Regions from separate parts of the Homo sapiens genome. Here regions 1, 2 and 4 are each reported to be linked to region 3. Evidence: microRNA targets listed by miRTarBase, many of them from high-throughput screens and not tested one by one. Region 3 holds a microRNA gene; each other region holds the end of a gene's coding sequence.
Evidence for each region. Region 3 holds the annotated microRNA hsa-miR-2114-5p (UAGUCCCUUCCUUGAAGCGGUC, at 3,155-3,176, opposite strand). A microRNA usually pairs through its seed, bases 2 to 8, with sites in the 3' UTR of a target mRNA and lowers its output. Matches are read on the target gene's strand: a 7mer-m8 pairs with bases 2 to 8, a 7mer-A1 pairs with bases 2 to 7 and ends in A, and an 8mer does both.

Region 1: miRTarBase lists MRPS27 as a target of hsa-miR-2114-5p. Seed matches in the 3' UTR shown: 7mer-m8 at 2,691-2,697.
Region 2: the mRNA of NOTO is a reported target of hsa-miR-2114-5p. Seed matches in the 3' UTR shown: 7mer-A1 at 5,044-5,050 and 7mer-A1 at 4,369-4,375.
Region 4: the mRNA of LDLRAD4 is a reported target of hsa-miR-2114-5p. Seed matches in the 3' UTR shown: 7mer-m8 at 3,353-3,359.

The regions. Positions count from the first base shown.
Region 1 is chr5:72,215,058-72,222,176 of GRCh38, reverse strand. It overlaps MRPS27 (mitochondrial ribosomal protein S27), which reads left to right. Exons shown (of 11, transcript NM_015084.3): 11 at 1,029-2,774. The coding sequence ends at 1,268. Among named protein-coding and RNA genes, the nearest start is that of MIR4803, 49 kb to the right of the region's middle.
Region 2 is chr2:73,209,534-73,216,652 of GRCh38, reverse strand. NOTO (notochord homeobox) reads right to left here. Exons shown (of 3, transcript NM_001134462.2): 3 at 4,140-5,882. The coding sequence ends at 5,724. It overlaps SMYD5 (SMYD family member 5), which reads right to left and starts at 2,408. Exons shown (of 13, transcript NM_006062.3): 1 at 2,291-2,408. The coding sequence starts at 2,386. RefSeq lists enhancers at 2,231-2,470, 2,258-2,552 and a silencer at 3,875-3,944.
Region 3 is chrX:150,224,073-150,231,191 of GRCh38, reverse strand. MIR2114 (microRNA 2114) reads right to left here and starts at 3,188; the gene lies at 3,109-3,188. It also overlaps the pseudogene XRCC6P2. RefSeq lists enhancers at 4,753-5,338, 5,339-5,926.
Region 4 is chr18:13,644,666-13,651,784 of GRCh38, forward strand. LDLRAD4 (low density lipoprotein receptor class A domain containing 4) reads left to right here. Exons shown (of 7, transcript NM_001378100.1): 7 at 462-7,119. The coding sequence ends at 992. Among named protein-coding and RNA genes, the nearest start is that of MIR4526, 37 kb to the left of the region's middle. RefSeq lists enhancers at 4,393-4,894, 4,895-5,394.

The DNA of each region.
Region 1 (7,119 bases), not on the chromosome of region 3:
TGTTGCCTGATTTTTATTAGTCAGAGGTCATTTGTTTGGGAGCCATTTTTATATGATTGACTCTCACACTAGGCCTCTGGCCCCTCCTGGAGCCTAGGCACCCTGCCCACCCCCAACCCTGTTAAGCAAGCCTCCTTTCCTGTGCCAATGAGTGGCATTTGTTTGTGGAACATGGGGATGTGTGGTATAAGCTACAGCTGGCCCCGTAAGTGGCCCTCTCTCTAATGAGAGAGTACATCTTAAAGTACTTAAATAGATTAATGTTTTTAATACTTACTTCTCCAGGAGCACAACACCAACCAAACCAAGGTGCCATTTCAGATGGAGCTGTAAGCAGGCAATACATAAAGACTGACCTGCAGTCTTAGAGTTCCTAAGACCCAATGCAGTGGAGCACAGCAGGCAGACGCTTCTAACGGTGCAGGCACTCAGGGGAGCTATTCCTTGAACTGATTTCCGTCTGTTGAGAGGAATGCCAGAAAGGCAAATACTTGTTTCAGTTATTCCGAAGGCACATGTATGGTTGGGCTTGCTCCAGTTATCAGATGCCTCTGCCATTTTGTTTGCATATTAGAATTCTTATTTTTGGTGTTTGCTGCTTGGTTTGGTTAGGTCAGGGTGGAAACATAGATTTGTTAGAGGCTGGCTGTCTTTGTGGTTTAAAACAAGAAATTACACAGGGAGACACAGCATATGGAGTTCCATTTACTGTTTTTGAGTGAAAGGGGAGAAATCACATGTGGTGCATCTTAGCAAAATTGCTGAGCTGAAAAAAATAACCACAGCTAACAGCACCTGAATGAAAGGCAGCATGACCATTTCCCAACAAAATGGTTTTTTTCTACCAGCAAAATGTGTGGTTATTTTGCAGGTGACTTCATTCTGGGCCACTAGAATGAGGACTAAACTACGAGTCAGCAAACTTTTGTTCAAATCTAAAGTCAGTCACTCAGGGCTAGTTTTTCCTCTTTGTATCTTTCTCTCACTTCTCTACCTTTCTTCTCATTTTTCCCATTTGTTTCCAACAGGCCTTACATTCTAAGCTTCAAGCTCTGGGCAAAATTGAGTCAGAAGGTCTTTTAAGTCTGACCACCCAGCTTGTCAAGGAAAAACTCTCCACCTGTGAAGCAGAGGACATCGCCACCTATGAGCAGAATCTGCAGCAGTGGCATCTAGACCTTGTACAGTTGATCCAGAGAGAACAGCAACAGAGGGAGCAAGCGAAGCAGGAGTACCAGGCTCAGAAAGCAGCAAAGGCATCTGCCTAATAGGGTCCCCCAGGGCCCCACCTGTCTCACAAGAACTTCACTCAACCCCGTGCCAGGACTCAGCAGTGGCCTGGACAACAGCCTCAGCTTCCTCTACCCATCTTCTTTTCTTAAAGCAGGCTATGTGCCCTACATGGCAAGGCACCATGACTGCCCATCGAGATGCCAAGAAGGGCTATGGAACTATGCAGGTGGCTAGTGGTCAGACTGAAGTCACCAGCTGAATACCTTAAGGAGGACTCTTGAGGCTCATAATGGAGTTCCTGGGGCACAGGGATTAGTTATGAGCATTAAAGTTCCTAAGACCCAGTGACAGTACTGGGAGAAACCAAGGCTGAAGAGTCAGGTTGAAGCACAGGCTTTTGTTTTTTGTTGTTTTTGTTTTTTGAGACAGAGTCTCATTCTGTCACCCAGGCTGGAGTGCAGTGGCGCAATCTTGGCTCACTGCAACCTCCGACTCCCAGGTTCAAGCAATTCTCCTGCCTCGGCCTCCTTTAGTAGGTGGGATTACAGGTGCATACCACCACACCTTTCTAATTTTTGCATTTTTAGTAGAGATGGGGTTTCACCATGTTGGTCAGGCTGGTCTCAACCTCCTGACCTCAAGTGATCTGCCCGCCTCAGCCTCCCAAAGTGCTGGGATGATAGGCGTGAGCCACCACACCCGGCCAAGCACAGGCTTTTGAATGGTCTCCCTCTCCCCAGCCCAGGTACATGAGGCCAAGGTGAACTGTGCATCCTGAGACCTTGTGTCCCTGAGTCTCCTTTCTGAGTGCAAGCTGCACTGTGAGCTGGCTGTGGGATACTCACACATTCCCACATTCTCCTTTCTGCCACATCTCGCCCTTCTGGACCTGCACTGGGAGAAATTCAGGACAGGAGTGAACTCAAGGCCATGAACTCACTGGATTTCCATTTTTAGGCACCCATAGGGATGTTTTTAGGATGTAAGTTTCTGAGGAGAAAGCTAGCTCTAGCATGAAGCTTTTTTGGATTGGCTTCTCCATCGTGTTGGGGTAACATTTTTTTTCCAATTTTTTTTTTCCCAAAACATCGTCTCAGCTCATTTATCAAGTAGGTAAAATGAGCCTTTTGTGTACACACAGAGGCACATGTGCATGCACACACAACTTGTGAACACACATTTCTGTTAAAGAAGTTAGAAAATGAGAGATGGGTTGGGGCTTGAAGTGCATCAGAGGTATGAATGTTGTAAAACTGTCAGGAGATGTAAAATTCCTTTCTGAAGTGTCTCTTCTGTGAAAGGGTTCAGAGCAGATTTTGCTTACTATGTAGTGTTGCCCTTAAGTACAGTGGTGTAATTTTATTCAAGATTGTGCTCTTCTATCAAAAGCCTCTGGAAATAAATGTTCCGGGATCATGTTAGTGTACTCTTTATCTTTGGGGAAAGGGAGGAGGGAGAGGGACTCATTATTGTTACTATGATTTTGAGGAGTGTACTTTAAACCCTCCCCCATTAAACTATGGGATTTATTGTAATAATGATAACTGCCACCACTAATATTTATTAAGGACTTAACTGTAGGCTGAAAACCCAAGCAGCCCTATGAGGGAGGTACCAGTGTCCCCATTTTATGAAACAAAGCAGCTCTCCTGCTGCTCCTCTCCCTGCCTGTGGCCTCCATATAGAACCGCAGTAGTCAGGATCCAACACAGGGCCCTTTAGACTAGCAAAGCTGCTGAATCTTACTTAGGTAGAGGGCCGTGACCAAAAGTCAGTTCCAACATTTTGGTTTACCAACAACAGGAGTTTTTCAGCCACTCTCTCATTACATTAAGAGGAACATTCAACACAAACAAAAGGGCAACTTTTGCCCAGTAAATTAATGACTGTCACAACATGAAGTATCTGGTTAAGGCTTTGGCTCATCGTTTTGCCTTCATTTTTCCTCCCTCTCCAGCCCCAATGTACTTTACTTCTCTTCTTCACCAAAAGAGACCACTTCTGCCACTGTACTGTGGTCCCACAGGAATTTCCATGTTCCCTCCTCCTCAGGATTCCTTCCACACTTGTGCCCCATTTCTCAGGACTCTTGGAGTCTTTCCCCTCCAAATATTCTGCCCTTTCCCCATGTCCTTATCTCCTGAGCTATAGGATACTCTCCTGCCTTCCTTCACAATTGGCTCTTCCCAATACAGTTGTCCTTTGTCCCTTTCCCTGATGTCATCTTCCATATTTCTTCCATGTGGATGGAGAAACTGCTCTTGGTGCCCTGGCCTCTGGAGGTTACCTCAACTGGATCATCTCCCAGTAACAAATTACCTTCTGCAGCTGACCTGCCATAGTCACAGCCAAACCTCCAGCCTCATCACGAATCCGAGATCTTAGATCCTGAAGTCCCCACTCTCCCAGGCTCGTCTCGTACCATGACTGCTGCTGAACCAACTTGCTCTGTAATTTCCTGCCTGCTAATCCTTAGCCTTTACCCCATCACCCAAACTCTTGGTCTCCAGAATCTGCTTCTCTTCCAGTGTGGGCCCCATGGTCAGCCATCCCCATGTTCTCATTAGCATCTTCATTTTCTCTCACTCCCTTTATCTAGGCTCACTTGCCAGCCTTCGACCTACATCCTTGCACCCATCTATTATGGGTAGAATTGTGTTCCCTAAAAAAGGTAAGTTGTATCCCTAATCCCCAGTCCCTTAGAATCTGACCTTAGTTGGAAATAAGTTTGTACTGAGGTAATCAAATATAGAGTGAGATCATCAGGGTCAGCCTGATCCAATTTGGTGTTTTTTTAAAAGGGGAAATTTGCACACACAGACTCACAGAGGGAAGATGAGCATGTGACCGTACAGGCCCAGGAACACCAAGGCTTGCCAGCAAACACCAGAAGTTAGAAGGGGTAAGGACGCTTCTCCCCTAGAGCCGTCAGAGAAAGCTTGGCCCTGCAGACACCTTGATTTCTGAGTTCTAGCCTTCAGAACTGTTATTTTAAGCCACACCATTTTTGGTACTTTGTTACTGCAGCCCTAGGAAACTGATAACACCACCATTCATTTTCTCTTTGGTTCTGACTTACTAAGTGTAGATATATAAAGTCATAATATTAGGCTGATTAGATTCTTCTACAAAATTATGGCTGTTCTCTTCAACTCAATAGTCCTTCCTTTAATTGACTCTCATTTTTGCTTCCATAGCTTTTCTGTTCTGCGTTAGCTCGAAGCCCTGCCCTCAGAACTACAAGCAGATGTTCTCTCCATCATCCTTCCTACTTTCAAATAATAGGTATCCCCTCCCTCCTTTCAAAGCTTAGGCTCTTCATTTGTGACCTTGGCCCATACCTGCCCACCTGTTCTACACATTCAAGCATTCCCTTTCCGTCTTATAGCATCTCTGTTGATTTCTTCTTCTAAGTCTACAGTCTTATTCAAGACCTTATTCAACACTTTTTAACAGCAAAAAATCCTTTACCCTGCCATCAGTCAAGCTGTCATGCTATGTCTCCTTCCTTATGTCTCCAAACTTCTTGAAAGGGTATCTACACTTACTGGCTCATTGTTCATTCATTAGAGGCTGAGAATTTGGCTTATAGCTTTACCACTCTGCTGCACAACATGGTCATCAACTACAGTGATCTTTTTTTTTTTTTTTCCTTTTAAATGCTCTGCTCCATTTGGTACCACTGACCACCCCTTATAAGCTTGCTGTCTGCAGCAGACTTACTGTCTGTTCCAGCACTGCTTTCGCAAGCTCTCAAGTGTTCGGTGTATACTGTGTACAAGGCACTATACAAGTGCTATGGAGTTTACAAGGATGAATAAACTATAGATTTTACCCTCAAATAACTTAGATTCTAGTGAGGCTGGCACATCCACACCCGTCAATACACAGCTGAAAGGTGTCGTTAGACAAACAGTTAATGTATGTGGGAGTTCACAGGAAGATCACTTTAAGCCCAGTGATGGGAAAAACTCTAATGAAGGGAATTAATTGCCTGCTTTGTGCATTAATTAGTCACATATGAGTGCCTCAAGCTGCCCTGGGGTCCTCTTTCCACAGAGGCTTGTGTGATGTGTTCATGAGAAAATACTTTAAATTAAGCTAAAATGAACAATTCAGATTAAACTTGTTTTGGCCCACATCCCATACTTACCTTGGCCATAAAAAGGAAAAAAAAGCAAGGCGGTGGAAAGAAGAAAAGAAAGAAAAATGATAAGGTATTATCCTCCCCTCAGTGCTGTGTTGCCTTGGCACCCAGCCTTGCATCCTGTTTTCCGACCTTCTCGTTGGCTGTGGAATCAGGTAGGTGTGTGAGAAGATTGGTTTAGATTCTACAAGAAGTAGTCAGAGGCCTTGAAAATAAGTTGATTATACCACAGTGGCTCACACCTGTAATCCCAGTACTTTGGGAGGCCGGGCCAGAGGATCACTTGAGGTCAGGAGCTCGAGACCAGCCCGGCTAACATAGCAAAACTCTGTCTCTACTAAAAAATACAAAAATTAGCTGGGTGTGGTGGTTGGCACCTGTAATCCCAGCTATTCAGGAGGCTGAGGCAGGAGAATCGATTGAACCTGGGAGGCAGAGGTTGCAGTGAGCCAAGATTGAGCCAATGCACTCCAGCCTGGGCAACAGAGCGAGACCAAAAAAGTTGATTAAAACCTTTTTTCACACTGAAAACAATTAGTTTTGCCATTCTTTGTTGTCTTTACTTTTGTGCATCTTCCCTGAAAATATACTGCAGCATTCTACTTTTTTCTTTTTGCTGCAGGTATCTGATGAGCTTTGGGAAACTCTCTTATTTTAACCACTGAGGAAAGGAAAAGCAGCTGCTGTGGTGGAACAGAGAACTTAGAATTAGGTATGAAAAACATTTCTAGAAGCTCATTGTGTCACTTAGGCCCCCCAGGAAGCAGATCAGCATCAGAGTCAGAGGTAACAGTGAAAGCAGTTTTGGGGGGATAAAGCCTGTGAAAAATGAAAGGAGGTGGAATTGGGATTGGGTGAGGAAAGCCTTCAGGTGGAGGTCCTACATCTGCAAAAGGAAAGGAGGGAGGAAGCACCACCGCCTAGCCTCTATTGCTTGAGGGGGGAGATTTTCAACACCCATCATCCCTATTGCCAACAACACCAAGCATAACCTCCTTTTCTATTGTGAGTTCTAGTCTGCTACCAAACCTGGTGACACAGGTGCCTGCTCACCAGTGCCCTTCCCCAGTGCATTCCCAATGGCCTCGATGAGCGGCGTGCCACCTGGCCCTCGAGGGAACATAGTTCTCTGCTGGGTCTTCTGGCTTCCTGTGATATATGTATCCACTCCAGGAGGCTACCCTGAGACTTGTAATCCTTTTCTCCTGGATCTGCCAGGTCAATTCGGGTATTTCAGTGGTTCTCAGTTCAGGCTATCCCTTTCTCCAGGCTTTTTTTATGAGCCATTGTTGCAGCAAGTCTGCAACACCCCCTGGAGTGTTAAACCCCTTAAGCATTTTATGGATTCTGAATTAATTATTTAGAACTAATTGGTGAGATTGGCCCTAGACTTTAAACTCCATGAAGACAGGCACTCTGTGTGTCTTGTTCATGGTTGTGGCCCAACACACAGAACAGGCATTACCATGAGGAGGGGGCTTATAAACATTTATTGAATGAATTATTTTTTATTAGGTTAAAAGGAAAGTCCTCCAACTGAGGTATAATTCCCAGCAGAAATTCTGAGATGCTAGAAGCCGTATGTCCTAAGCTGAGGTAGTTTAATGCCAAAGAAAGCCTCTTTGGATTTCTACGAAGTGTAGTGTAAGCCAAAATTGACACCAGGAGGAAGGTTTGTGGGGAAAAAATAGGGGGGTGAGCATGGTGTATCATATCAGAATTCTCTTCTACATATGTAT
Region 2 (7,119 bases), not on the chromosome of region 3:
CACGACCTCAGCTCACTGCAACTTCTGCCTCCTGGGTTCAAGCAATTCTCGTGCCTGGCCCTCAGGTAGCTGGGATTACAGGTGTGCACCACCACGCCCGACTAATTTTTGTATTTTTAGTACAGATGGGGTTTCACCATGTTGGTCAGGCTGGTCTCGAACTCCTGACATCAAGTTCAAGTGATCCGCCCCTCTCGGCCTCCCAAAGTGCTGGGATTACAGGTGTGAGCCACCACGCCAGGCCTAATTTTTGTATTTTTAGTAGAGACAGGGTTTCACCATGTTGGCCAGACTGGTCTTGAACTCCTGATCTCAAGTGATCAGCCCACCTTGGCCTCCGAAAGCGCTGGAATTAAAGGAATGAGCCACCATGCCCGGGCAGACTATGTAGTAGATTTTAAAATCTTGATTAAAAGAAGAAAGCCCACAATAAGCCATGCTGCTATCCGGCTAGTGCACCAGTATGGTAATCCAGCTGGCTTCCACTGGACCTGGTGAGGTTTCTGTTCTGACTGGTCATGTCTCTGGCATAATAGTTGATAAATTTTTGAAAAGTCATTCCTATCCACAGAAGCAATAAACAGTAGTCAAAAACTACTCCCACTTGAGGCCCCTGGTCTATATAGTTTCATGACCCAATTCTCTCAAACCTTTAAAGAATAAATAATGCTCATGCTATTTAAACAATGTAATGACAGAAAGCATTTCTGTTTTACCAAAAAAAAACAAGTATAACCCTCATGTGGCAACTTGAGGAAAATAACACAGAGAAAAAAATCACAAACCAATCTCATTTGAATAGAGAAGCAAAAAGCCCAGGATAATCCATGCTGTTACCAAGTCCAGGCAGGTATGTTATTTTCTCCAGCAGCAGATCAGATGTAGGCAAGGAGAGGGCAATCAGCTAGGGCCTTGATAGAAGCCTGGGACAGGAAAACTGTGCAAGGAGAGTGGCTGAAGTGAAGAAGCGAGAGGGAAGAAATGAAGAAAGGAAGGGGCTGAGAGACTGGGGGCTAATGAAGAAAAAGGTGAAGAATATCACTGCAAACCAAGAATGATGGAACTGAGAGGCCTTCAAACTGTGGCCACCCAGGAGCACTAGAGACTATGGAGATGGAGATAGGAACAGGTAAGGAGACCAGGGATGTAGGGAAGCTGATTTACCAGGGAAGGAGCAAACTGCTCCAGATACCTCTAGAGCAGAAAGGGGGCACGGAAGGTTGAGCTGGAAAACTAGATCAATATGATGACGCTGAGAGCAGACAACAGACAACTAGAGGTCTTACGTCTTGGGCAAGAACCAACCATACACACAGCCACTACACAGGATAAATTATTCAACCTCACTAGTAACCAAAGAAACGTAAATGAGAACAAATATAATTTTACACATATCAATAGGCAAAGATAACTAGGAAAAAAATACTGCTGGACAAAACAAGAGGATGTTTGCACAGAAAATGAGCTCTAAGACTTTTGACTCTGGGGATGAAAAATACCATACAACAATAAAGGGTCCATTAATAAGGGGTTGGTTGAGTGAACTGTGACCCTCTCACGGAAGAAGCTACTACTCAGCTCTTAAAACTTAATATGTAGAAATAGGCTTGATATTGAAAGATTCACTGCTGCATCAAAAAGCAGTTTCTAAAAATGTAATTTTAACGTACTCATCTTTGCACAAGTATAGAAGTATGGGTGATTTTTGTATTTTCTTTCCTTACATGCATTTTGTATTTTTTTCTACAATGAACTTTTGGAACACAATAAAAACGACAAAATCACGTCACCTTCCTGCTAAAAACTCTCCCAATGCCCCCACGGCCTTTGGACTCTGGTCCAAATTCCTCAGCACTCCAAGGACCCTCGTGAAGGATCTTGGCCTCTCTCCTCATCCCCTCACCCAAATCTCACACATGAAGTTCGTGAGGACTCCCTCTTTTACACCTCAGTTCTCTCTGCCCGGCACATCCCCGCCCACCGTTCCAGGGATACAGCAGCAAAGCCCCCTAGCCCCGCCCCGAGCAGCCACAGAAGGGCCTCCCGCGGGCTGGCCGAATTCCGCTGGGAGGAAATGCGCACGGAGACTCCGGAGGCCCGGGTCTATCGCGTGACCGCGCCACGAGCCTGCGCGCAGGGACAGACTGGGAGCCCCCGGGCCGCGAGCAGGGGCAGGGCCGTAGCGTCCGAGCGGCACAGAAGCCTCTGGGCTCCGGGCATGGAGTCCGGCCGGGCTGTCTCCATGGCCGGACTGGGGAGAGGCTCCCGGCAGGACCCGCCCCGACCTCACCTTGGCGCTGCTCACGAAACGGACTTCCACGGAGACCCGCGCGCGGCCCGCCACGCCCACGCAGAAGGAGAACACGTCGCACATGGAGGCCGCCATCTTGGGCGCGCCTCCGCCTTATGACCCTTAACCCCGCCTCGACCTGAGAGGCCACACCCCCTTCTGGTCCCGCCCCCGGCGAGAGTGCCCCTGAGGCTGCGAGGTTTTGGGCTCCACCAAGTCTGAATTTAGGTTCCGTGGTTTGTTGACGGGAGTGTAACTGGGCCTGCCTTTGTGCTTTTACATCGGTGCCTTTTTGTGTCTGTACCTCTGTATCAGAGTCTGTGTGCGCGTACAGTTTTGATGTGTGTATCTTTGAGTCCGTTGCATGTTTTGTTGTGGTTTTTTTTTTTTGAGATAGTCTCACTCTGTCGCCCAGGCTGGTGTGCAGTGGCGCGATCTCGGCTCAGTGCAACCTCTGCCTCCCAGGTTCAAGTGATTCATTCTCCTGCCTCAGCCTCCCGAGTAGCTGGGCGTACAGGCGTGCGCCACTAAGCCCAGCTAATTTTTGTATTTTTAGGGGTTTCACCATGTTGGCCAGGCTGGTCTCGAACTCCTGACCTCAAGTGATCCGCCCGCCTCGACCTCCTAAAGTGTTGGGATTACAGGCGTGAGCCACCTCGCCCGGCCTCCGATGCATGTTTCTATGTATGTTGTCTCTGTCCACACAGTGGCCTGTCTTCACTGAGTAAAGCGCTCTTTGGACCCAGCCCTAGAGTGGGACAGCAGAAGGCCAACTTACTCCTATCCTGTCTAGCTCTCAGCCTGAAGGGAAGGACTAGCTTATACCCCGGAGCTCACTCACCCCACTTGAAGAGTCCAGGACAAGATTTCCTTTCTCGGTAATCCCTCTGGCAGCAGAACAGTCCTGCCAAAGGTCAGGGTGGACTTGTGCCTCTGTCAGATTCTTCAATGGCTTAGGGACCTTGCAACCGGGGGTAGCGGAGGAGTCCATAGGGGACCTCAGATCTGAGAACCTCTGAAACTGGATACAGAAGTGAGTGTGCATATGCACACACTGTCGTGAAAAGGGGGAGGGGCCTGTTCTCTCAGGACCCCAAGAAGCTGCAAACCACAGACCTATGGCATTTGTCCCCACAGCTAGGCCTGACTATCAAGCCTTGTTTTGTTTCCTTGTCCCCTGATTTTGTGAGTTTTGTTTGAGACAGGGTCTCGCTTTGTCGCCCATACTGGCATGGGGCGATCTCGGCTCACGGCAGCCTCCAGCTCCCGGGCTCAAGAACAGACTGGGCAACGTAGTGAGACCTTGTCTCTCCAAAAAATAGAAAAATTTGCCGGGCGTGGTGATGCGTGGGAGGATCACCTGAACCTGGGGAGGTCTAGACTGCAATGAGCCGTGATCAAGCCACAATTATCTATCAAATAATTATAGATAGATAGATAGTTGGCAGGGACAGAGAAAGGTTCTTGAAACTGACCCTGCCTCTCCTCAAGCTTGCAACCTGGTGTCAAGGAGCGAATAGTCCACGGACTTGGGGGAGATAGATAGTTGGCAGGGCCAGAGAAGAGGCTCTTGAAACCGACCCTGGGTCCCCTCAAGCCTGCAGCCCGGTGTCAGGGAGCGAATAGTCCACGTACTTGGGGGCAAACCTACCCGAGAGCAGCTGGGGGCCGTGCCCTCACTCACCACCAGGTGGCAGGGCAGGCTTCCTTCCATCCCTCAGCTCAGTCCCCAAGAGCCATTCTAGAATCTGAATGGTCTGTGCTACAGAAATCAGCTCTGCAAATCCTGGCAGCAGGCTTCTTTCAGAGAAATCGAGCACATTCTTGAGAAGAAAAAGGAGCCATGAGTCAGAGTCATGAAAGGGGGAAATTATAACTGTCCTGTGAAAACACAGCAGAGTTTATGACAAAATGCCAGCCTTGGCATACACAAATTATTCTATAAAAAGATGGGGCTTTGGGAGGCCAAGGCAGGAGAACCACTTGAAGCCTGGAATTCAAGACCAGCCTGGGCAACAAGTGGACGTTGTCTCTACAAAAAATGTTAAAAATTAGCCAGGCGTGGTGTCACGCGCCTGTAGTCCCAGCTGCTTAGGAGGCTAAGGTGGGAGGATCACTAGAGCCCAGGAGGTTGAGGCTGCCGTGAGCTATGATTGCACCACTGCACTCCAGTCTGGGTGACAGAGCGAGTCCTTGTCTTTGCTGCTGGGCCTGAGCTTCTTCTGAGAATGGTAACAGTTCAGACAAAACAAGAAAACGTTGGGAAACTTTGTGAAGTGGGCTAAACAGTCTACCTTCTCTTCTTTGCTCTCAACTCCTTCTGATGGTGAAGAGTCTTCTATGCCCAGATGCTTATTCAAAGAGGTTCCTTCTCCACAGCCAGGCCAGGAAAATATTAATTGCTGGTACAGGTATTACTCCCCCAGGTGAGGGGAGCTGTGATATTATGAAATATATATTTGGTCTTCATCTCGATTTCCTGGCATAGAACTCCTAAAATCCCTAGAATCTCTGAAGTGATGTCTTTTCATATGCTAATGAGTTGACTGATGACTGGTAGACCTTAAGACTCCATAAAAAACAAAAAGGGCAGGGTTGGGCCGGGTGGTGGCTCACACATGTAATCCCAGCACTTTGGGAGGCCGAGGTGGGTGGATCACAAGGTCAGCAGTTCAAGACCAGCCTGACCATATGATGAAACCCCGTCTCTACTAAAAATATAAAAATTAGCCAGGCATGGTGGCATGCGCCTATAGTCCCAGCTGCTCGGGAGGCTGAGGCAGGAGAATCGCTTGAACCCGGGAGGCGGAGGTGGCGGTGAGCCAAGATCGCGCCACTGCAGTCTGTCTCAAAAAAAAAAGAAAGGAGGGGCTGCCATGTGGAATGAGCCCTGAATCTGTGGGGTCAGACACTACCTGCAGGTAGATCATGTCAGAATTTGCTGAACTGGAGGTTGGAATGTGGGGTACACCCCTATACGTTTGGTCACAGAAGTGTTCTGTGTTGATTGTTGTGGGGTGACAGCAGAAGAAAAAAACTTTTTTTTTTCCAGTTGGTCTTCTCTACTCAGGGGCCTACAAGCCTTAACAGTAACCACACACTTTGCACTGTGCATGGCACATTATTGCTTTACAGACATCTTCTCACCCCTGGGTGATCTAAGTTATGAATGCACCCATTATACAGATAAAGAAAAAAGGCTCGGAAGTTCCATAGGTTGGCCAAGGACATAGCTGAAGGCCAGAGTCTGTGCCTCCAATCATTACATTATTCCAGTTTCCAGGAATCAGTATAGAAAAGGGGGTCCCTGCTTGACAGCTCAGATTCTTCTGGTTGAGGAGGCTTTTCGTTGAGGTGTGAGGCAGGGAGCTCCAGTGGGTACCCCCAGGAGGAACTAGTCCAGGCAGCCTGGCTAGGGCCTCTGTCCCAGTCTTCAGCCGTCCACTCCTGACTCGGCATCATCACTCTGGATACTGGCGATGGAGCTGCTGGAAGGCTCATCCAGGGAGGCAGCCTCGGCAGATGTAACTGCTGCCCTCAGCTTTTGCTGCTTCTGATACTTGACCCTGCGGTTCTGGAACCAGACTCTCACCTATAATTGGAGAGTGGGCAGAGATCAGAATGTGACCATCAGGTCCCACTGCTTCCTAATTCCTGGAGTGAACACCCCTCTCTGCCTGGCCAATATTTGCTCTTCCTTCTCAGGGAGGTACCTCCTCCAAAACACCCCTTTCTACAATTCCAGACACCATTCATTCATCTGAGTATTTACTGAGTTTCCAGTATGTGCTAAGCACCATCCTAGGTGATGCTGATACAGTGGTGAGCAACAGAGGCAAGCTGCCTGCCCTCGTGGAGCTCATGAGCTAGTGAAGAAACACTGGCAAGAAACATGTAAACAAACAAAGAGCTATGTAAACACAAAAGGGGGTACAAACAGGGGTTTGGGCAGAGGAGGCCTCCCTAAGGAGCCAGCATTAAAGCTGAGGCTCAAAGAGAGAGAGGCCCACCTGATGGGGACAGAGAAGAGCAGGTCTGCAGGGCAGGGAACAACCTGTAGGAAGGCTCTGAAATGGAACCAAGCTTGGAGTGTTTGAGGACCAGGAAGGAGGAGAGCACGGATGACAGTGAGAGGAGAAAGTCAAGGGAGGGAAATGGGAGAGGTCAGCGGGTGCCAGATCACCCAGGACCTGGAAGGCCATAGATAAGGAATGTCACCCATGAGGCTTTTACGTGGGCCCACATAATCCTATTTACATCTGAAGTGCACTGTGCACCTAGCTGCTGTGTGAAGCATGGATGGCAGCAGAAGCAGGAAGACAGGAGGGAGGCTACTGCAGCGGCCCCGGGAGAGCTGGGGCGTACATTAGGGGTGACAGAGAGAAGTGAAGCCACTCCAGCTGTATTTTGGAGGTAGAGATGACAAGGCTCAATGATGGTTGGAAGCGGAGGAGAAGGAGGAATCTAGGATGATTGGGTTTTTGAGTAACCAGGTGGACGGTGGGGTCATATATGGGAAAGGAACATATTTGGGCAAGAAAAAAGTCAGGAATTGAGGTTTAGACTTGGGTTTGAGATATGTGCCCATGAGACATCTAAGTGGAATCACCAAGAAGGTAGTTAGAGATATAAGTCAGATGAGATGGTTGTGCTGAGGATACAAATTTGGGAGTCATTGGCTTATAGATGGTATTTTAAGCCACGGGAATAGATGAGACCAGCTGGGAAGAGATTTCGAGGTCCCCAAGGGAAGAGTAGCCTGCCAAGGAGGCAGAGCTGGGAGGAAAACTAGACAGCATGGTGTCTGGAGGCTATGAGGAACATGTTTC
Region 3 (7,119 bases):
GGGCACGCTGGGCAAGTTCACTGTGCCCATGTTGAAAGAGGCCTGCCGGGCTTACGGGCTGAAGAGTGGGCTGAAGAAGCAGGAGCTGCTGGAAGCCCTCACCAAGCACTTCCAGGATTGACCAGAGGCCATGCGTCCAGCTGCCCTTCCACAGTGAGGCCAGGCTGCCTGGCCTTGTCCTCAGCCAGTTAAAATGTGTTTCTCCTGAGCTAGGAAGAGTCTACCCGACATAAGTCGAGGGACTTTATGTTTTTGAGGCTTTCTGTTGCCATGGTGATGGTGTAGCCCTCCCACTTTGCTGTTCCTTACTTTACTACCTGAATAAAGAGCCCTAAGTTTGTACTAAAAAGAAAGAAAGAAAGAAAGAAAGAAAGAAAGAAAGAAAGAAAGAAAGAAAGTTCCCTTCTTAGTTTTCTAAGAGATTTTTGTTTGTTTTTTGGTGTTTTATTAAGGATGGCTGTTGAATGTTCTCAAATGCTTTTCTGCACCAATTCAAATGATTGTATGACTTCCTCCTTTTTCTTTGTTAATAAGATTAATCCAATTGGTTGATTTTCTAAATAGTTAACCACCCTCACATCTCACATGCCTACAATAAACCTTAATTAGTTGTTGAATTAGATTGTATTTCCCCAGAAGCTGATACTAGGTCAGGAATTGGAGTACAAATAATTTATTTGGGAGGTGAACCCTGAAAATACCAGAAGAACTATGAAGATGAAGTCCTCTCTGTCTGCACATACACACATGAATGGGACAATGAACATATATGAATATATATGACTGGACATACATATATATATATATATGCACATACATATTAATGGAAAGGGAAGGGAGATATGTATTTATATTCATGTATGTATATGTTATATGTATATATATAAATGTAACAATAAATATTGTATGTGTATATGTATTGGATTTGGTTTGCTAATATCTTAAGAGTTTGTGGAACTATGTTCATGAGAGGAATTGGTCTATAATGTTCATTTCTTGCAATATCCTTGTCAGGTTTTGGAATCAAGGTCATCTGGGACTCATAAAAAGGTTATGGGACACCCCAGCAGAGAAGATGGCTGTGGAAGGCCCTGGGGAATGATGGTGTGCTCAGAAGATCAGGAATGAGAAGAGCAGCACCTGTAGTGGAAGCTGCCAGCCTGGCTGTCTTGGGAAATAATGGCCAAGTTCTCCCTGTTCCCTGTAGATCCTGTCTCCACAGTGGCATGATGAGGGGTGGGAACATCAGGTTCAGAAAAGGTCTTTCTGCTCTCAGCTTCTCACAAGCTTAACTGAAGCCCCCCGCCGGGGTGATAGAAGATATGACTTCCCCTGAGTTTGGTAGAGGCAAGCATTTCCCTTTGAAAGCTTGTTGGTCATTGGTCATCTCCGTGGTCTCTTCTAAACCCCAAGAGTCATCCAGGGCCATGCACCCAGGGGCTTTTTCCACCTCTCCATTCAGAGCCTTTGATGCCCCTTACACACCTCTTATCAGCTGTTGAACAAACTGTGACCTGTCTCCAAGAATGCTGGCCAGCTGAGGCTGACAATGGGGCTTGGCCAACCAAAGTGATATGGATAGCAACTGGCAGAGGGCCAGGATGGCATAAATGTCAAAAGGTGCTTGCACTTGCTGCTGTGACTGCTAGCTGTGGTCTTAAGGTATCTTGCAGAGGAGGGGGTAAAGGATGGTCCCAGAGGCACCAAAAGGGGCAACAAGCACAGACATTTTTAACTGCCACTCAGAGAACAACAACTCTGTGCCAAGCCCTGTGCTGAGGGCTCTACACTCACAATCTTCTTCATATACACATGGGTCTCACTGAAACCATAACACAGCAGAGTGGGAAGGGATATTTTAACCAACTAAGGTGTTCACTTGCCAGTGCCTGGGATCCAAAGTCAGCATAGCCACTCTATACGCTCAATCATTGGGAGAGGGTAGGAGGAGCCAGTTGGCTTAGTGACACATTTAACTTGGAGTACATTCATCAAGACATGCCTGGAAAAGGCCACAGAGGAAAGGCTCCAGAGAGGAAGATAGCACTGGGTGACTGAACTGAGGGGACCACAGCTTCATAAGAAGGGCAACAAGAACCAGGCTCAGCACTTATTCTGGTGTTCACTCAACAGCATACAATGTCATCACATTCACTCTCTTACTGGAACCTCCTAGGGCGCCCAGGAAGTCAGCAGGGCAGGAGTCTTCTCCCCTCTGAACAAATGAGGAAAGTAAGGTTCAGAGAGGTGAGGTGACTTTACTTGCCAAAGACCTATTACTGGTATGGTAGGCTAAATAATGGCCCACAAAGATGTCCACATCCTAACCCCTGGAACCTGTGAATATGACTTTATATGGCAAAAGGGACTTTGTGTATGTAATTAAGTTAAGGATCTTGAAGTGAGAAGGTTGTCCTAGATTATCTGGGAAGGCTGTGAATGCAATCACAAGTGTCCTTATAAGAGGAAGGCAGAAGGAGATTTGGCACAGACAGAAGAAAAAGGGATGTGATGACAAGAGCTCCATGTGTATATCAAGGATTGTGAGTGTAAAGCCTTCAGCACAGGGCTTGGCGCAGAGTCATTCTCTGAGTAGCAGTTAAAGCAATCTGTGCTTGTCACCCCTTTGGTGCCTCTGGGACCTCCTCCGCAAGATACCTTAAGAAAGAGATTGAAACGATGTGCTTTGAAGATGGAGGAGGGGGTGATGAGCCAAGGAATACAGGTGGCCAACCTGAAAAAGGCAAAGTAATGGATTCTCCCCTCAGAGCCTCCAAAAGCATCCAGCCCTGTTGACACCTTGATTTTAGGCCAGTGAAACTGATTTGTTTTGGACCTCTGACCTCCAAAAGTATAATAGTAAATTTGCATTGTTTTAAGCCACTATGTTGGTGGTAATTTGTTATAACAGCAATGAGAAACTGATCCATCTGGTGAGTGGCAGAACTGGGACAGAAGCCAGTCATCTCATCACCCAGGCAAAGGCAGACGCCATCATCTGCTTCTTGGCAAAGTTTCCCAGGGCCTGGATAGATGTGGGAGTGGAGGATGGGAGGACTTCAATAGGAGGCAATGATGGTTCGGAAGCAGGAAGCTAGCTGCTGGAAGCCACCAGCTTGAAGTCCCTTGCTTGAGGCTCGTCATGTGATTATCCGACCGCTTCAAGGAAGGGACTAGGAGCATGGAGGCAGAGGCCTGTCTTTGGCCCCAGAAGCTGGGACGTTTGATCCATTGCTGACTGGGTGAGGGTCCTGCTGATTGAGATGGAGAGTCCTTAGAGGCAAGACTGGACCGATGACTTCTTGAGGTGCTTTTCAGCTCTCAGGTTCTGTCAGTCCCTCTTCATGGAATCCTAGGTGCCAAAAGCAGACCCAGGAAGCCTGTGGCCCTGATAACCCAAGGCAACCTCTGTCTCTCTAAATGTTCCTGTGGAACCGAGTAAGCATAATCCCAGAGGGCAGTTTGGGACAGCTCACACCCTTCCAGTGGCGGTGAAAATTGGTCATTCCCCTTGGAGAGAGGAGGCGCTCTTGGCAATTTTCCAGAGCTCTACCCTCCTTCCTTTGTGCCCAAACAGCTGTGGGCAGATCAGGCTGGGGGTAGAAAGGAATGAATTCTATTTTCTTCCCTCCCTGAGGTACTCCATGTGGTCACAGAAGGCTGCACAGGAAATATAACGGTTGACAGACGTGCGGTGTTTTGTGATGTGAAAATTAAAATCACCAGGAAATGTTCACGTTCTCTCTCTCCTTCTCTCCCCCCCTCCCCTATCTTCCTTCCTCTGAGCCTTTCTCTCTCTCTGTTCTCACTCTTCCTCTGTTGCCTTTTTCCCCCCAGTTCATTTTAAGTCCCTCAAACTTCCTACCTCCAAGAACAACTCTCTAGTTGAGGCTTGGACTTTACAACTTTCACAAATCACTTTGAATCCTTAAGGTGCCTACAGACCTCTCAGTTTGAGCAATTATGGGAGGGAGAACAAAGAATCAGGGTGGGCGAGCTTCCAGCCACCACTGCCATAAAGTTAAGTGACAACTGTTCACTCCCAAGCCTCTGAGTCTGGACAGGTTTGAAAAATTTGTTTTAATCTCAAAAATCTATTCCCAATGAGCAATTAGAAGCCATTTCCTTGAGCTCTTACTATATCCCAAACTTCGGTTTAGTTAAATTTTGTGAGGTTCAAATTTTGCACCTTGAGACTCTACTTTTCTCTAAATTTCACAATTTAGGGATAAGGGTCTGTTTGTATTCAGCACTGATTGGAATGAAAACATCATTGAGCTTGCCAAGCTGAGACCTGGAATACCACAGCATGAGGTTCATATGTTCTGAATGAGCAGGTTTCAGAAAGCTGAGCACTTAGATGGTGAGGCGTGTGACTTGTAAGATGTGCTTTCTGTAGGGACACAGGCCATCCCCACCGCTGCACCTTCAGCATCTGTAAATGGTACAAGGGCTAAAGTACTTGCACGCAGGCATTTGGATTTTCCCCTGTGTATTATTATTGGCGTTATCTAAGGCAATGTCCCTATCTTACTTCATAGGTCAAGAGTATCCCCAGGGCCACCCAGCAATGCCTAGGAATGAACTCCTAGAATGAAAAACACTTTGGGAGATTCTTCTATCAACCTTCCCTTGTTCTATAAATGTGGACACTCAGGCCTGAAAGAGGGGACAGGCCCTGCAACTTGAGATGGCTCAGCAGGACTGGGACTCAGGTCTAGCTCGTACTCTCCACCCCAGGCCTAGATACTTGTCCACTGTGACTACCTCCGGGAGCCAGGTGCCAGCCTGGGAGGAGCCATATCTGTTTTGGAGCAATTGCCCCGGGCATAGCAAAGAAGGGGGTTGAGTATGAGATAGTATAAGGATGGCATGTATCCTTTGGTAAACAACAAATCTTGGGGCTGGAAGGCTGGTCAAAAGTCAGTCTGGAGACTGGTTTTCCACAACAGAACGTGCTGCGAAAGAGTTGTGGGCAAAACTCGGTTTTGAAAATTGAATCTTTAACCCCCCTGGGTGCCATCTATTGCAATCTTATGAGAACTACTTTTGTGAAGCAAAGGGTCTTCTTGTAATGCAAATTTCCACTCCCTAATTGGCCCGGTGTGTAACTTCTATGCCTTCAATTGCTGAAGGGGGCCAAGCCCCTTTGACACCGGTTTTTGTTTTGGTTTAGCACAAAGCAGGTAGGAGGTAGGGTCAACTCGCACCTCCCTAATGCTGCCGCTGCTGCCTCCGGGCGGGAGAAGACCCACCTGGGCTCCAGGGCAGAGCTGGGCCAGCTTATCACCTCCCCTTCATCGCCCTGTGGAGGTCTGCTGCAGAGTAGTTAATCGGGAAGCTGGGAGTGCAGGTGGCACTCTGTGCCACCTGGAGCCATCTCCGAGAGAGTGCCCGCATCCTCCAAGGCTGGAGAGGAATACCAATTGCACGGTTACTGGGCCCCCTCAGGAGCCCACAAGAGGAAATTAAAAGGCATACACACGCCTGGAATAAAGGACCCTCTTCTTGCAGCTAATCACTGAAATTGGTCACTGGGTTGTCCCCTCCCCCCTTTGGTGAAAGACATGGTCTTTCTCTTGTTCTGTTCCATCACTGCGTTCTTAGAAAAGTGTGAGGAGGGGGGCTAAGCTTTGCACGGGCATCCTCCCATCCCCGCCCTCAAGGTCTGCCTTTCTCTCAGAGTCCTGGCTTTTCCCAGCATGGGGGGCATTTGTTTGTCCTGTCTGATGCAGGAGAAAGGTCAATCCCAGCCCCTAGGCTATGCAGGTGGGAAGAGTGGCCTGGCATCTCTTAAGACTGTCTCCTGCATGGCCCTTTGCAGGTTGTAAAATGCTTGCACTCCCCTCCCTGTATGGGCTTCACAACCTCATCAGGGCTCACAGCTGCTATTTTACCTTGAGGGCATGGTCTAAGGTGACAGACATGGTCCTCAGGATTTGAATCCAGGACTTTAGCTCCAAGGCTAGGATAAGCTCTTCCCACCCTCTGTGCTTTAGGGCCCACTGTGGCCCCAGTCCACTCGGCAATGGGAGAGCCTGTTTGCATGCCCTTAGCAAAGCCTGTGGAGCCCTGAGGGCAGGGGCAGGAAGATGGCCTTGGGGCTGCCAGGGAGATGCCTAGGAGGTTTTGGTTATTAATTAATTAATAACACTGTGTCCCAGCAGTCAGGCTGGGCTGGACCTATGGGAGATGCCCTCTAGATACCTGCTGAAAGCAAGCAGGAAAGAGCATGAGACTTACTGTCTCCTGCGTGGGAACAGGGGGCGGTGCTTAGTTTCCCCTGCTAGGCCAGTAAAAGGCTTGGGTCACCTGATGGCCAAGGCCCTGTGCCACAAGTTCTGGAGACCTGATACAAGCTGTGGTCTTGCTTCCCACTGTGGCCATAGGCACGTAGCTCCATGAGTGTTCTGAAGAGGCTCAGCTCAGGGAAAATGCAGGTGGCTGGGCCTGAGAATCTGGGGTTGACAAGAAAACCTAATATTCATACTGTAGTATATTGAATGGTGGCCCCACAAAGATATGTCTACCTGGCACCTGTGAATATGACCTTATTTGGCAAAAGGTCTTTGCAGATGTAATTAAGGATCTTGAGATACCATCCCAGATTATCCAAATAGGCACTAAATCCAATGACGTGTCATTATAAGAGAGTGGCAGGAGATTCAAGATACACAGGGAAGTAGGTAAGGGTGAAGATGGAGCCAGAGGTTGGAGTGATACGGCCACAAGCCAAAGGAACACCTGGATCCACCAGAAGCTGGAAGAAGCAAGGAAGGATTATCCCCTAGAGCCTTCGCAGGGAGCTTGGAACTGCTGACACCTTGATTTCTGATTTCTGGCCTCCAGAACTGTTGGAGAATAAATGAATAAATACATTTCTGCATCAGTGAATAAGTTGTCACTGTTTTAAGCCACGAAGTTTATGGTAATTTGTTACAGTAGGCACAGAAACCAATACAAAATAGCAACAATACCAAGGAGAGGAGGGGAAACAGGAAGGAGGAAGAGGAAGATGAAGGAAGAAGGATAAAGTCTTATTGACCATCCACCAAGTGCCATGCAGGCACTGCCCTACCTGCCTTTAGAGTGTGATCCCATTTGATGGCTATGACAACC
Region 4 (7,119 bases), not on the chromosome of region 3:
AGGGACCTGAGAAAGCAGGCAGCCCTGTCCTGTCCTCGTAAGTTATAGAGAAGCCGAGGACTGGACGATGTCACTGGTGACCAGATCCAAGTGCAGGCCGCAGTGCTCTTCGCCCTGTGACTCTTGGAGTTCCTAGTGTGTTCTGTTTCCAAGGGGAAAATGCACACGTAGCACGCACAGAAACTCCCAGGAGCCCAAGCTTTCCATTACCCACAGCTCTCCATTGCTCAGCCCTCCTGGATGCGCTGGGATTTGGCAAGGTGAGTGGTCTGTCATAAGGAATCAGAAAAGTACACTTTTTTTTCTGGAATTGGATTTTCCTGTTTTCTTTTTTTTTTTCCTGGGAGATGGTGTTCAAACTGGTAGGAACACACACCAAGCGTAACTTTCCTTGATTCTGACACATTTATGGTCATCATTGCGCTCAAACTGTCTTCAAGCCTCTCCTCTTTTCCTTCCAGATCATGCATGCCCCGCGGTCCAGGGACAGGTTCACAGCGCCGTCCTTCATCCAGAGGGATCGCTTCAGCCGCTTCCAGCCCACCTACCCCTATGTGCAGCACGAGATTGATCTTCCTCCCACCATCTCCCTGTCCGACGGTGAAGAGCCACCTCCTTACCAGGGGCCCTGCACCCTGCAGCTCCGGGACCCTGAACAGCAGATGGAACTCAACCGAGAGTCCGTGAGGGCCCCACCCAACCGAACCATATTTGACAGTGATTTAATAGACATTGCTATGTATAGCGGGGGTCCATGCCCACCCAGCAGCAACTCGGGCATCAGTGCAAGCACCTGCAGCAGTAACGGGAGGATGGAGGGGCCACCCCCCACATACAGCGAGGTGATGGGCCACCACCCAGGCGCCTCTTTCCTCCATCACCAGCGCAGCAACGCACACAGGGGCAGCAGACTGCAGTTTCAGCAGAACAATGCAGAGAGCACAATAGTACCCATCAAAGGCAAAGATAGGAAGCCTGGGAACCTGGTCTGATTCCTTCCAACGTGCACTTCAGCTGGAGAAAGAAACCAAGAAGGGAAGCGGCCGCTGGGCCCCTCCTGCGCACAGTGTTGTTCAGTTTCACATGGTACAAATAAGTAAAACCAAATGAGCAAACACGGTCTTTGTTTCTGATTCCTTTTAGGGGAATTGCATGCAAACTAGACTGAAATGATACAAACTTCCATCTGGTCTGACCGCAAACAGTGTTTATTTGGGGACAGGGGTTGGGATGGGGGTGTGGGCAGGGGAAAACAGAGAACGGGATGCTTTGAAGATACCATGAAATAAAACCCACAGAGGTATTTGATGTATTTAATTGTGAAAGGAGACTTTGCAGATAAATGAGGCCAGAATGGCATGTTTTATAATTAACTGAATAAAGAAGGAAGCATTATTATATATTATTGTGGGGAAGAACCAGCCAGTTCGCTTTTTCTCCTAAGGTGTGGAACTTTTATTTTGTTTTAAAAATATGAATCAAAATTCCTGTGTTGTGTGCCAAGGTATAAAGTGGAGAAGTTAGATGAGTGCAAGGAGCTCCTTTGTGTTGTGATGATGTGTTTTAAAAGTTGCACTATCTTAATGTTGAAAATATTTACAAGGGAACTGTTTTACGTGAAGTTCTGTATGTTGTCTTTTCACCTGTGGATTGTAATCAGGCCCAAGGAATATCCTGGAGTGGTCCCCAGAAGCATCCAAGAAAAGATATTTGGGGACGTAGCCTAACATTTTACCAACTTACGTAAATCAAAAAAGTCATTATTGTTGCAGGAGTTTGCATCAAATAGCAGTGCATCGCTGAAGCTTTTGGAGACTTTTGGATGGAAGATAAGATAGGGAAGATTAAGTTCCAGCATTTCTGACTTGTTATTTTGAGTTACTCTGCTACTCTTAGGCTGCATAGTTTATGAGAAAATGAACACATGCATTTATGGATCCAGTATCATGCAGTGCTGCCCTCATCCTCCAGCAGTGCAATTTCTTCAGTAATTTAGATTTTTTTCACTATAGCATGAAATATATTCAAATACATACCTTATTTTATGCAATAAATTGTTTAAAATGCAAGGTGGTTATTCTGCATACTGTTGAAATATGTGACTCCTCAGTATATTCCCATTGCCTCTCCCCCTTTCCTCGACAGCTTAGTTCAGTTCTGCAGGGCTGCTCAGTTCACAGGAGGCTCCCAGCAGCCACCCCACATCCAGCCTACACAGAACTTCGTGTGGGAGTGGTGTGGGTGGTGGTTTCTTATGCTTTGGAAGCCCCTAGAAATAATGACGGAAGAATGCCATGTTGCTGATCGTGGTAATAAGCCATTGTGGGTTATTGTATGTCACTAGTATTAGCATAGCATTCTTAAAGGAATGCAGTGCTCAAAACCTACCCAAATTCCCGCAGGATTCTACCAAACCCTTCCCCAGGCCAGCTTTTGTACTGAAGGCAAGAACTGGACAGTCAGAGAACAGTGGAGGGGGCAAGTGACTGAAGAGCACCGGGTAAAAAGCACAACATGCAGTTAAAATGCAACTAGAAAACTAATTTTAAATATTGTTAGTTTTAATATTCCTGATATTTACAAATATTCATTCTTATATACAATGAAAAAAATAACTTTCTTCTGCAGATGTAAGCACTGGCTTTTATAAGAGCAGCAGCCAACACGTTTAGCAGACACTGCGCGTGGAGAAGGGCTTATCTGCAGTACACTCTGCCATGTGGAGGGTGGGCCTCTGTGGCCTCTTCACATAACAAGATGAGCTGGAATGATGATTCCATGACTCCCACCTATGCAGCCTTAAAGCCAAATCCGCGTGTGTGTGTTTGTGTCTGTCTGTGGGTCTCGAAGGTGATCCGTCGGTGCGGTGGCTCTGTGCTGTAACTGGAGAGACTGTTCCAAACCCCAAGAGTTGTCTGATCCTAGTCTGTTCCCTTCTGCTTCTTACCTCTGTAGATAGGTCACTGGTTTTTGTTTGTTTGTTTTGAGGATTGGAATTTCCATTACATTCATCCTTTGCACACAGTAACATCCACAGAACTAGTCCAACTCTTAAAAGGAGAGAGGAAAAACACAGGCACCAGTTGTCAGCTCATGCTTACAACCTGTGTGGAAGTATATACAGTTGAGAGTCACAGTGGAGGTTCTGAGACTGGATTCAGTCTTGTTCCAGTGACAGTTGGAAGGCCTCTGCTGGAGAGACACCAGCTCTCAGGGCAGAGATTGGCTTGGGGCCAGAAGGACCCTCCCCAACCCTGGAGACACCCTGAAGGTTCACTGGCTCTCCAGATTAGCCTCTCTTCCTCTGTCAGGCAAAGATGAGGAGCCCGTGTTCCCATCGGGCCCTGCTGGCAGGGACTTGCAGTGGATTCTTGGTCAGGTGTGCCCACAGATGCGGAGGCGAGGTGAGTGATTCCATCATTTCAGTTCTCACCTGCAGTTTTGGTGAAGCAGGAGATGCACCCCACAGCTCTAGCTCTCAAATGGCTTCACAGTCCTTACTTCTCTACCTGCCTCAAGAAGGGGCTCAGAGCAGAGACTTGTGAATTCCTTAGTAACTGTGAGTATATGAATGTGTTGCACATGTCCACAGTATTGGCGAGATAATTACATAATTCAGATACCTTTAATCATCTTTCAAGAAAGAGGCTCCTCCCATTCAACCACCCTAGAGAACTGCCTTTGTTAAATAGTTATTTAAAGACTCATACATATCAAACCATGACTTTGAAAGGTCTTCGAGGCTGGGGCTCTGTAATGAATTAGTTTAAAAGCCAAGGTCATAACATGAATTGATGGTCAATTTCCCTTCAGCAGAAGGAAAAGGTGATTTAGATCAGTAGCTCTTTTGAAGGTTGTGGCTGACCTGTTCATACCGTGTCGCCTCATGGCTAGTGTGGCGTTGAAAGAGTAGCGACTGGGAAGATACAACTTACACAGTGGGGCCTATTGTTCTTTCAAGAACCCTTTTTTTAGCTTATAGAACCCATGGGTCCAGTTTAGTAACGAGTGATTTAGGCAATCAATGATAGGTTTATAATCTTAGATTATTCCAGCAAAGTGTGGATTGCATTGTTAGGAAGAACATTTGGTGGGAATGAACACTCCTGGGCATACCGCTGACTTTTGTCCCTTGTTCCCGGTGTAGGAGACCCAAGGCATCTTGAATCCCATCTATAAGAACACAATCTTCCAGCATACGTTTGCTTTTTCAGAAACTCTAGCATTCTCTTTAAATACTGACGCAATCCTTAATGGAAAAGAGATTTCATGAAGCAAATTATGTATTTCAATAGTTCTTCTATTTTTAGTGTCCAAAATTTACTAATACAGAAGCTTGACAAGCATGTCCTCACCCTCCCCACCACATAAACACATGGACACACACCCAAGCCACAAGAAATCCCAAGAGAGCAGAAGCGAATTTTTAAAAGATTTATCGTGAGGACTGCATTTCCATTCACTAATTTTGGCTCAAACTTATGAGGCAGGAAATAGGGGCCAACAGTAAATGGGGGAGGCCTCCTGACACCAGCAGAGGAATTTTGTACCCAGGCGAGGACTTCTTGAACTTCTGCGTATCTCCGTTTGATCTCTTTCACCTTTATTTCATCTTCATAAGAATGAGAAAGGCTCAAAAGGAAGCACTTTTAGAAATCTTCTCTGACCTAGAAGAATCCATCCAAATCCCTGCCTTCCTCTCTGAACCAACAGTTCCCTTCTCTGACAGGGGCCATCCTCTATCTTCCATCCAGCGGCTCTTCTTTTTAGGAAGGCTCTGGTGCAGAGCACTTCAAATATGTCCTCAGGCCAGATACTGATTGCTAGTAGAGAGACACCCGGCACCCAGTCCGAAGCCCTCCCTCAAAGGACCGGCTCATGGCGTTGGTCACTGGCAGGCTCAGAGACATTCTGCTGTGGGCGCAGGGAGCCCGGCCCCCCATGCAGCCATGACTGGATGCGCCCCCATCTCGGGGGCTTGCTGCACTGCTTGTTTATTGAATTTTGCTACTTAGAATGGCAACATTAACTTTGTGTACCATTCATTTTTTAAAAATTTTCCAAAGCTCGGCAGTGTATGAAAGAAAAAACTGGGAAAGATACTTGGTTTCTGTTAACTTTTGTGTTGCTTGCTTAAGTGATTAAAGCCAGTGCTTGGAGCCAAGCCTTCATGCCACGAACATGCTCCACAGCCTGCCCTTTGCTCTCCTGCTCACACTGACCAAGAATGCCGCGTGCTTGGCCTACTGAGGTGAAAGGACAATTGAATGACAGGTGGGCAAAGGGAGAACTTCCCCTTCTTGGTGCGAGGAAAGTCACAAATTTAAAAATGTTGCTTCCAGCCCAGATCCTAAATGCTAGTTCTCAGCAGCTGCGTGGCTTACCGTTCGCCATTTCCACCACCGCCAGCTGCCAGCACCGCTACAGATCACAGAGATGTGAACAGACAATGGAAAGCACTCTTAGCCTTGCAGTGGTCTACATTTTTTAGGAACCAATATTTCAGCATTCTTTATTACCCGGCACGCTGTGTCCTTTGCAGAGTTCAAGTTTATGTTACTGCCAGGGTCAGACAGTCATTTGCTGCTGCTGCTGCTGCTGCTGCTTCTCGAACTGGATGCATTAGGAAGCTGCTGTCTGAGTGTAGGAATGTCTTGCTAAGAAAGCAATGTCTTCCTTCATCCTTTTCTTTCTTCCCTCTGCGTGTCCTTGTTTTTGTGTAATGCGGGAGAGGGTTAGAGCTATAGAGATTATATATACACTATCCGTGCACATTATATATATGTAGATATACCCCTATCATGTCAGAGATCTGCATGTCAGTTTTTCAGCAACTAAGGTGCCTCATGTTCTGAGTTCAGCAGATATAGGAACCAAGCCGCCCCCTCCTGCACTTGATGCTCCCACCTTTGTTGTGCCTCACTTAAAATGGTGCTTTTTTCAGTTGTCTGTCTTTTCTTATGTTTTTATTTGTAAGGTGCTGTATATAAGTTGAATATATTATGCACATATCCTACCCAATGGGTAGAACAAAAAGTTGTTAATACTGTAATATAATGTATAGATGATACCAATTTTAACAGAAATGGCATAGAATTTGTGAATGCCTATGTGCTTTGTCCTCTTTTGTAAGGAAATTTGCAAATGGATGCATACAGATTAAAGTCTATGTAGTTTATTTTCCTATTAAATATCAATATTATAACACAAGAGAAAGAAGTGTGAACAAACAAGCAACAGTTTATGACCAGCGTATATATAGCAATGGAAAGTTGCATCTTTGCTGTGAAAACACTTTAAAGAAAATACTTTTTAAAAAATCCCACAGCTTTTTGGTTGCCACTAGACGCTTCTTATTTTAATCATTTTAGTAATGCTCAGCTGGACCAGTGTTAGTTATATTTGAGTCAGAAAAATGTTGTTTTTCAACTTGCTTTATAATCTCCTGCATCTATCTCCTGCTGTAGCATCACGAAGGTGTCAGGCAACAGTGAAAAGTGCACATTTTTGTTGTTGCAGAAACTGTGTCAGAGGAATAAGTAAATCAGCCTGCAGCAGAAGACTTTGTTCAGCTCCAGAGGCATCTGTGACCGTCTGTGTCCAAGTCTCTCTGTGCCTTTTTCTTTTACAAACTGAAGCTGTGGAGCCAATGAAGTAACAGTAGAGATTGTAGGGAAAGAATACCTCAGGAAAAACAAATACACTTACAAGAAGACCCTGTTCTTAGAAAATGTGTTTAGTTATGGGTTAGCACTAGAAGAGACTTGGCTGTCAGCCAGCCAAGTGAAGGACCTCTCATCCATTCCCATTCATGTCCCATCATAATACGGACCCAAAAAGCAAACTCGGTTTTGCCATCAGTTAGAAATTACGTTTTGGATTGTATATTGTTACATCTCTCTTCCGGCTTAGTTTTTAGTGTCTGATTGTGACCTCTGCATTTATCTTCAAATACCCTAATTTTAAAACAAAAGAACAAGAAAAGTTTATAACACCATGTTCACTAAAACCACGGTTGAATCTTGGGTGTGGGCATCCTTTCGAGTGTTGTCCATAAGAGCAGTTCGTGGAATTTTGCCCATCTGACCCATATTATCAGCTTATTCTGCCACCAGAGTA